Linked DNA regions of Homo sapiens: all the other regions are linked to region 2. The links come from fine-mapping of genetic effects on gene expression. A gene starts in region 2. Each other region holds a variant in brackets. All regions are shown on one strand. Distances are from middle to middle.

Region 1 (2,795 bases), 24 kb after region 2:
TGAGAGGTTGAGGCTGCAGTGAGCTATGATCGTGCCACTGCACTCCAGTCTGGGCAACAGAGTGAGACCCTGTCTCAAACAAACAAACAAACAAAATTAAAGTCATCAGATGGGGTCTTCCTTATTTTTTTCCATCTGCATTGAGAGAGACCCAGTCTACTTTCATGAAAAGGGTGGTGGTCTTGGTATAGATGGATGGATAGATTGCTGTTTACAAGAAATGCAGTTATTTTACGTGTTTAGACACAACAAAACAGTGCTCTTTAACACACGCAAGTACAATGGCTATAGGTGCAAATACATTTTGCAATAACATACAAAGTCTAAATCTGAAGCTCTTTCTGAATTGGGAACCTAGGTAAATGGGCCCTCCTTGGTACCTAACAGGCTTCATCCACTTCCAAGCTACTCCCTGCAAGCCCCCCACCGCCCTGCCCCTCCTACCCTTCTTCTCACCAAAGTAATTGTTCTACACCCTGGCTGCGCATTGGAATCGCTTGGAGGAGCTGGCCAATTCTGCATATCATTTCAATCAGATTCTCTGGGGGTGAATCCAGGCTTCAGTTGTGTTTTTTTTTTTTTGACAGAGTGTCACTCCGTCACCAAGGCTGGAGTGCAATGGCACAATCTTGGCTCACCGCAACCTCTACCTGTTGGGTTCAAGCGATTCTCCTGCCTCAGCCTCCTGAGTAGCTGGGACTACAGGCGTGTGCCACCAGGCCCAGCTAATTTTTGTATTTTTAGTAGAGACGGGGTTTCACCACATTGGCCAGGCTGGCCTCGATCTCCTGACCTCAGGTGATCTGTCTGCCTTGGCCCCGCAAAGTGCTGGAATTACAGGCATGAGCCACCGCGCCCAACCAACATCAGTATTTATTTATTTGTTTTTTTGAGATTGATTCTTGCACTGTTGCCCAGGCTGGAATGCAAGGGTGCAATCTCGGCTCACCGCAACTTCTGCCTCCCGGGTTCAAGTGATTCTCATGCCTCAGCCTCCAGAATAGCTGAGATTACAGGCACCCGCCAACATGCCCAGCTAATTTTTGTATTTTTAATAGAGATGGGGTTTCACCACGTTAGCTAGGCTGGTCTCGAAGTTCTGACCTCAAGTGATCCGCCTGCCTCTGCCTCCTAAAGTGCTGGAATTATGGGCACCAGCCACTTCGCCCAGCCAAACACATGTAAATTTTCAAATTCTGTAGGTGATTCGAGCCAGCAGCAGAGGTTGGGGGTTGGGAAGCCAGTCCTACAGAAACTGCCCCTCCTCCTATCTACCCTTCCACTGTACTTTGTCTCCCACTC[C/G]CTCCCTCTCAACTGGTTTACTTCTAAAGACTTTTCTTTTTTTTTTTTTTCTGAGATGGAGTCTCGCTCTGTCACCCAGGCAGGAGTGCAGTGGCGCGATCTCAGCTCACTGCAACCTCCGCCTCCCAGATTCAAGTGATTCTCCTGCCTCCCAAGTAACTGGGACTACAGGTGTGTGCCACCAAGCCTGGCTAATTTTTGTATTTTTAGTAGAGATGGGGTTTCACCATGTTGGCCAGGCTGGCCTCGAACTCCTGACCTCAAGTGATCCCCCTGCCTCGGCCTCCCAAAGTGCTGGGATTACAGGCTGAGCCCCCGCACATGGCCTAAAGACTTTTCAACATGATCAAGTCTCTCCCACTTACGGAAAAAAGAAAAATTGCAAATACCCACAAATATTCCTTGACTTTCACATGCTGCTCCAAGCTCCTTCCCATCCCAGGGCTCTTAGCTAGAATGCTCTCCTCTGGTTCCAAGCTACACCCAGACTGGTAACTTAGTTACACCCTTAGCCTTGTTTCTCAAACCCTAATATGTATGCTGCTGTGCACCTGGGAGATCTTGTTAAAAAGCACATTTAGGCCTGGCGCAGTGGCAAATGCCTGTAATCTCAGTACTTTGGGAGGCCGATGGGAGGCCAAGGTGGGTGGATCACCTGAGGTCTGGAGTTTGAGACCAGCCTGGCCAACACAGTGAAACCCCGTCTCTACTAAAAATACAAAAATTAGCCGGGTGTGGTGGCGAGTGCCTGTAATCCCAGCTGCTCGGGAAACTGAGGTAGGAGAATCTCTTGAACCCGGGAGGCAGAGGTTGCAATGAGCTGAGATAGCGCCACTGCACTCCAGCCTGGGCAACAAGAGTGAGATTCCATCTCAAAAAAAAAATAAAAATAAAAAATAAAAATAAATAGCACATTTAGAAACTGTAGATCTGGGGGGGGGCTGAAGATTCTTCATTTTAACACAGTTCAATATGAGGGCGATGCTGTGCATTATCTTCAAGCAGTAAAGTTTTAAGTCTCTGCTCAACAGGCTCCTTGGGAAAGCAACCCCGACTTTCCTACGTTAAAGCCTCCTTCACAGCACTTAAGGCTTTTTTGATATTTCTGCTCGTCCTCCCAGTTTACTCCTCCATAAAATGGGCATTCCGGCCGGGTGCGGTGGCTCACGTCTGTAATCCTAGCACTTTGGGAGGCCGAGGCAGGCAGATTGCCTGAGCTCAGGAGTTCAAGACCAGCCTGGGCAACAAGGTGAAACCCCGTCTCTACTAAAATACAAAAAATTAGCTGGGCGTGGCAGCGTGTGCCTGTAGTCCTAGCTACTCGGGAGACTGAGGCAGGAGAATTGCTTGAACCCGGGAGGCGGAGGTTGCAGTGAGCCAAGATCGCACCACTGCAGTCCAGCCTGGGTGACAGAGCGACTCCGTCTCAAAAAAAAAAAAAAAAAAAAAAGGGGGCACTCCACAAAGGCATGAGACATGTCTGTCTGAGATTG
Region 2 (2,795 bases):
GGGTTACTTGAAGCCGCTAGGGCCCTGCCTTAATTTAAGTGCTGATTCTACTATTTCCCTTTGTAAACAGGATGCTTTTAGAGGTGGGGATGCTGTGAGGAGATGGAAGTCTGGGACAGTTTCAGTCTGTAACCTCTAATTCATACATGCTTTATTCCAAGTCATACAATATGACAACCAACAAGTTAAAGGGCTTGCGGATACATCTGTTGGGCACTTATAAACTTCATACCCGAGTAACACACCTTGCAAGGCACCTACGACTGCCTATTTTGCAGATGAGAAAGGTGGGGCACTGGGAGCAGAAGGCACTTACTTGCCCAGTGGAAGAAATGGGCTTGGGATCCAGGACCCTCTGAATCTAAAGCCCAAGTGCCCCAAGAAGAGCTGGAGAAGCAACCGGATGGAAGGGAAAAGGAGAGGGAAGGGCGGAGGGCTGAAACAGGAGGTGGCCACAGAAGCAGATGTGAGGACCAGGAAAGGAACCCAGCCAACCAGGATGCTACTCCCAGGTCACTCTGAGGAGGGGTCGCGCCCAGGACTTGGGAATGTCAGCGCCCAGAGCTGCCCCCATCCGCAGTCTGTTCGCTCCCAGGACTTGGGAATGTCAGCGCCCAGAGCTGCCCCCATCCGCAGTCTGGTCGCTCCCAGGGCCTGGAGGTCTCTCCATGCTGGGGCTTGGGGCTGCACTGGCAAGCCAGGGATGGAGGGGCGGAGAGGGAGGATCGGGCGCCTGCCCGCCCACCACAGCTCCCGGCCCTGCTGCGACTTGCTGGGAATACCAGAACCCCAGTGTTTATAGGACTGCAAGCAGTGGCCTCCCTCTACCCCGAGCCGCCCTCGGGGGCGGCACCGCGGTCGGCTCTGGTCAGCATCAAAGACAAGTAGATGGGCAGGCGGACCCCGCCGAAAGTGCATCCTCCTAAGGGAACTAGGGGGGACGACAGAGCGGGCTAGACCCCATCCCTACGCAGAAAGAAAACTGAAGAAAGGGGCCAGCGGCCCCACAGCTCCCCTCTCCTCTCCCTCCCTCCGCGCAGCGCCTTGAAAAAAGAAGGGGTCCTAATGGATCCCGTGCCTCCGACAGGTCCCCTCCTTGGTCCTTTGTCACGGCCACCTCCGCACGAGGCACGTCCCCGGCAGCCTTCCTTCCCCCGGCCCGCGTCCCCGGGTCCCCGGCACTCACCCAGAGGCAGGCTGATCCGGGGGCTGAGCGCCCAGGTCGGAGGCGGCGGCTGCAGCAGGAGCAGCAGCAGCAGGAGCAGCAGCAGCGGTGGCCGAGGCGGCAGCGCGCCCCATGGGGCGGCGAGCCAGCTCCTCAGGCCCATCGCGGTGCGCAGCATTCGGAGAGCAGGAGCGACGGTGTCCCGCGGCTCGGGCTCAGGTGGCTCGGCCGGACTCACGGGCGGCAGCTCCGCCCCGCGGTCCGCCCCCGAGTCGCCCCGGGGGCCCCCGCCTCCGGACCTGGGGGGCGGGAGGTGGGAAACAGGGTCAAGTGGGCCCTGGCAAACTCAGCCCCTCCGCGGGGCACCGCAGTCCTCCCGCCGGCGCCGGCCCCGCAGCCTCGGCTTGGGCAGAGCTCACCCGCAAGCGGCGGAGGGCGGGGCTGAAGGAGGAAGTCGGCCGTGAGCCCGGCCGGCCCGCCCCCTTCCCCCTTCCTCCTTCCCGGGCGCTGGCAGCGCGAGGGGCGGCAGCTCGGGGCGCTGCCGCAGGGGCCAAGCCCGGGATCAGTAGCCCCGGCGGCCGCCGGAGCGCTGGGACGCGGACGAAAGCCGACCCCCAGCTCCCCGCCCCCACTGCTCAGACCCTCCCACCGCCGCCCAGGCCCTGGCCCCTTCCGGCTCCTCTGGGACCCTCTGCTAGTGGCGTTGGTTTGGGGACACGCTGCGTCCCCGCTATGCGCCTAGGGAGTTAGGGGGCGGATGGTGATTAGGCCTTGGTCTCCTCCCTTTAGGCGCCCCCTCCGCTCTTGCTCCTGGCGACCCCCTTGTTCCTGCGACCAAATGAACTCGGCCGAGCTCGTGCTGACACTGGGGCTAGCAGCTTGAGAGTCCAATTTTTGCACAGGTCAATCCACTGCAAGTCATGGCTGGGCATTCACTACAAGCTCAGCACTTAGTCTAGGCACCCTGCGGGCTTGTCCGCTTAATATTCTGTCCACGCGAAGCCCTCGGGTGGGGGAAGGGCAAGATTAGCTTAAGTGGGATAATAGGATTTAATGTACTGCTGAGGAGGTAAAACCTTCACAACCTGCACGTGACCCGGCAGGGGAAGGGAACCCCTAAGACTGGAGTGGAAGCCCAGAGGCACCCACCCCTAATCCTCCTGGCTCCTAACATCTCCACGGGTGGAGTTCAGCTCTGCTGAGACCAGGGGTTTCCAACTGCAGCCTGGACCATTAGCAGATTCTGAAATCAATTTAGTGGATCCCAACAGCATTAAGAAACAAACAAAACATAGAAACTATCTAAGCAATAATCTCAAAGGATAAGTAATTTTGGGAAAGCTACTTCAACTTTTCCTAAGTGTGCACAGGATTACAGAAAAATGTAGTAGTTCCTCCTGTAGTTAAGAGTCCAAAAGAGTGAAAGCCTCTGCTAGTTATTTCCATGGCAGTAGAGACCATCGCTCCATAAATTTGCTGCAATTGCAGGAAAGCTCCTCTTCACCCCCAGCCAAAATCAGCCTCCTCAGAGCACCTCTTTTCCTCTCCTCCCGACTTTCAGGGTCTGCCACATCTGCTCCCACAACAGGGATGCTGTCAAGAGGGTGGGCACAGCACCCACATGGTCCCA
Region 3 (2,648 bases), 29 kb before region 2:
GAAGCCATCTCAGTCCCTTCCCCAGCTGGGTCAGTTTGCTTTCCTGTGCCCCCACTGCCCTCCATGTTGGCCCCAAAGCACTGACTGTTCACCCCCACGAGGCTGAGCTCGCTGGTGCTGGTCCTGTGACCTGCTCTCTCAAGTTTCTGGTAGGCTTTAATGAGCGTGTGACCTGGGCCACGTCCTGTGGCGTTTGTTCTCCTAGGCCAACCCCTTCAAGGAGCGAATCTGCAGGGTCTTCTCCACATCCCCAGCCAAAGACAGCCTTAGCTTTGAGGACTTCCTGGATCTCCTCAGTGTGTTCAGTGACACAGCCACGCCAGACATCAAGTCCCATTATGCCTTCCGCATCTTTGGTGAGAACCAGGAGCAGCCCGGCAGGACACCACCCCTTCCCACGTGGGCTTTGTGGTGGCCCTGCTTGGGAAATGGGCGCCGTTTGGGGAACCTCAGAGCCCCTCCCAACCGTGTCTTTTGGCTTCCTGTGTCTGCTCTCTAGACTTTGATGATGACGGAACCTTGAACAGAGAAGACCTGAGCCGGCTGGTGAACTGCCTCACGGGAGAGGGCGAGGACACACGGCTTAGTGCGTCTGAGATGAAGCAGCTCATCGACAACGTGAGCAGCTGAGCAGGCCTGGGAGCGGGAGGGAGCAGTTGGGGCTCTGGCCTGAAACTCTCCCTTTCCCAGATCCTGGAGGAGTCTGACATTGACAGGGATGGAACCATCAACCTCTCTGAGTTCCAGCACGTCATCTCCCGTTCTCCAGACTTTGCCAGGTATGACAGTGGTCCCCCTTCATTCTGGGTACCTGCAGGTTCCGACCTGCTGCCTCTGGGCCTAGGGCATGGCTACAGGAGGTGGTGCCAGGGTGAGAGAAAGCCCCAGTCCCCACACACAGGGCCGGCTAAGCTGGCAGTCTCGCCCCGGGCAGGGGCAGCCCTCCTTGTCAAGACCTCTCCCCTTCCCACTGCCATTGTCATTGCTCTGTGTTTGTACTCATTAGTAATAAAGGTTTAGAAGCTCTGACCCAGTGTGTGGGTCCAGAAAGCTCCCTCTGGATGTCTCGGGGAGTTCTTGCAGAGGGGGCTGACACACGGAACATAGCCCGTTCCAAAGAAGGGTCTAAAGGGAGAAGGGGGCAAGTTCGGGTTTAGTCCCTGCCCTCCTCTTCCAGCAGAAAACCCACCGCTTTTCTCTTGTTCAGCTCCTTTAAGATTGTCCTGTGACAGCAGCCCCAGCGTGTGTCCTGGCACCCTGTCCAAGAACCTTTCTACTGCTGAGCTGTGGCCAAGGTCAAGCCTGTGTTGCCAGTGCGGGCCAAGCTGGCCCAGCCTGGAGCTGGCGCTGTGCAGCCTCACCCCGGGCAGGGGCGGCCCTCGTTGTCAGGGCCTCTCCTCACTGCTGTTGTCATTGCTCCGTTTGTGTTTGTACTAATCAGTAATAAAGGTTTAGAAGTTTGACCCTATGTGTGACATGAGATACACTGGTATGAGGAAGGACTGGACTTCTCTTCTAAGAGCCTTCAATCATCCTAGGAATAAGCAGCATATCGAGCAGAGGCCAGCGGGAAGTCAAGCCGCACCCACGCTGGCTGTCCCCGTGGGAGGGTGTGAGGATGAAGGGGCAGCAGGAGGTGTGGGACTCGCCTGTATCCTGATTGGGGTGGTGGTTAGATGAGTCTCTGCATGCA[T/A]CAAAATGTAAAGAACCGTACATCAGTAAAGTCTATTTTACTGCATGATCTGAAGAATTAAAAACTTTAATACAGGGCCCCCATCCCATCCCATCCCTTCCCTTGTGTCCCTACCCTTGCTAAACTGAATTGGGGATGCAGAATGAAGGGGTTGAGGTAAACGCAATGAACCCCCTGCCTCCGCCTATCAGTGCGTTAAGCTCCCCACCTCAGAGCCGCCCCACAGGGAGACGTTGCTGACCAGGCTAGGCTGACTCTGGCTCACTTGAGCCTGCAAAGAAGAGGTTCAGAACCTCTCAGAACTCAGAAGACTAGACCTACCTCAAAAAGCAACTGTCCTTGAAGAGGAAGAGCCAGGATTAAACAGTAATTCTTCAGACTTTATTAAAAAATGACATAAAGTGCATCTTATTAAAAAATGTATAAAAACCACATAAATTCAGGGCCCCTGTGCTGGGCAGTGTTGATATCCCTTAGAGTGGAGGAAGGTGAGGGATGGAGGGTGAACTGGGGACTGGGGAGAGGACCAGGGTGCAGTTAGTTCCTCGTGTTTGAGTTCAAAGATGGAGCGAGGGTGGATATGGTGGGAAGGGGCACACGGGTTCTCACGCAACAACGGAGGAAGGCAGGCGACAGTCTCTTCCCTGAATTCTGAGGGAAAGGCGTACATTGTCACGAAATCTCTCCTGAGCTCGCGCTGTCCTCTCGTGTGGCCACAGCCTGATACAGGCTGGAAAGGTCCAGGAGTTGGGTCCGAGCCCAGGACCTGGTGAGGGCCGCAGTGCCAACCTAGCCCTCTGGTCCCTGAGGTGGTGGGACGACGGCAGCAACAACTACATCCTCGGCTGACTGGCAAGGCAGAACGCACGCAGCCCAAGCTGGTCCTGAATCTGCAGTGAGACAGGGCAGCCGGTGGCAGCGGGATAATGTGGAAGGTGAAGAGGCCAGTTGGTGA

Evidence for each region. PIP is the estimated chance that this variant, and not a neighbour inherited with it, causes the effect. A credible set is the group of variants that fine-mapping cannot tell apart.
Region 1: its variant is the best candidate, but not a certain one, in a credible set for the expression of SEMA4B in fibroblasts (GTEx, PIP 0.58).
Region 3: its variant is the best candidate, but not a certain one, in a credible set for the expression of SEMA4B in monocytes after LPS (Quach 2016, PIP 0.80).

The regions. Positions count from the first base shown.
Region 1 is chr15:90,175,641-90,178,435 of GRCh38, reverse strand. No RefSeq gene overlaps it. Among named protein-coding and RNA genes, the nearest start is that of SEMA4B, 24 kb to the left of the region's middle. RefSeq lists an enhancer at 1-373. The variant C/G (reference allele first, on the strand shown) is at 1,303.
Region 2 is chr15:90,200,127-90,202,921 of GRCh38, reverse strand. SEMA4B (semaphorin 4B) reads right to left here and starts at 1,592. Exons shown (of 14, transcript NM_198925.4): 1 at 1,187-1,592. The coding sequence starts at 1,343. RefSeq lists a silencer at 1,141-1,900 and an enhancer at 1,073-2,044.
Region 3 is chr15:90,229,065-90,231,712 of GRCh38, reverse strand. It overlaps SEMA4B (semaphorin 4B), which reads right to left. Exons shown (of 14, transcript NM_198925.4): 14 at 2,053-2,648. It overlaps CIB1 (calcium and integrin binding 1), which reads left to right. Exons shown (of 7, transcript NM_006384.4): 4 at 206-356; 5 at 500-618; 6 at 691-779; 7 at 1,208-1,738. The coding sequence ends at 1,229. Among named protein-coding and RNA genes, the nearest start is that of CIB1, 3.6 kb to the left of the region's middle. The variant T/A (reference allele first, on the strand shown) is at 1,694.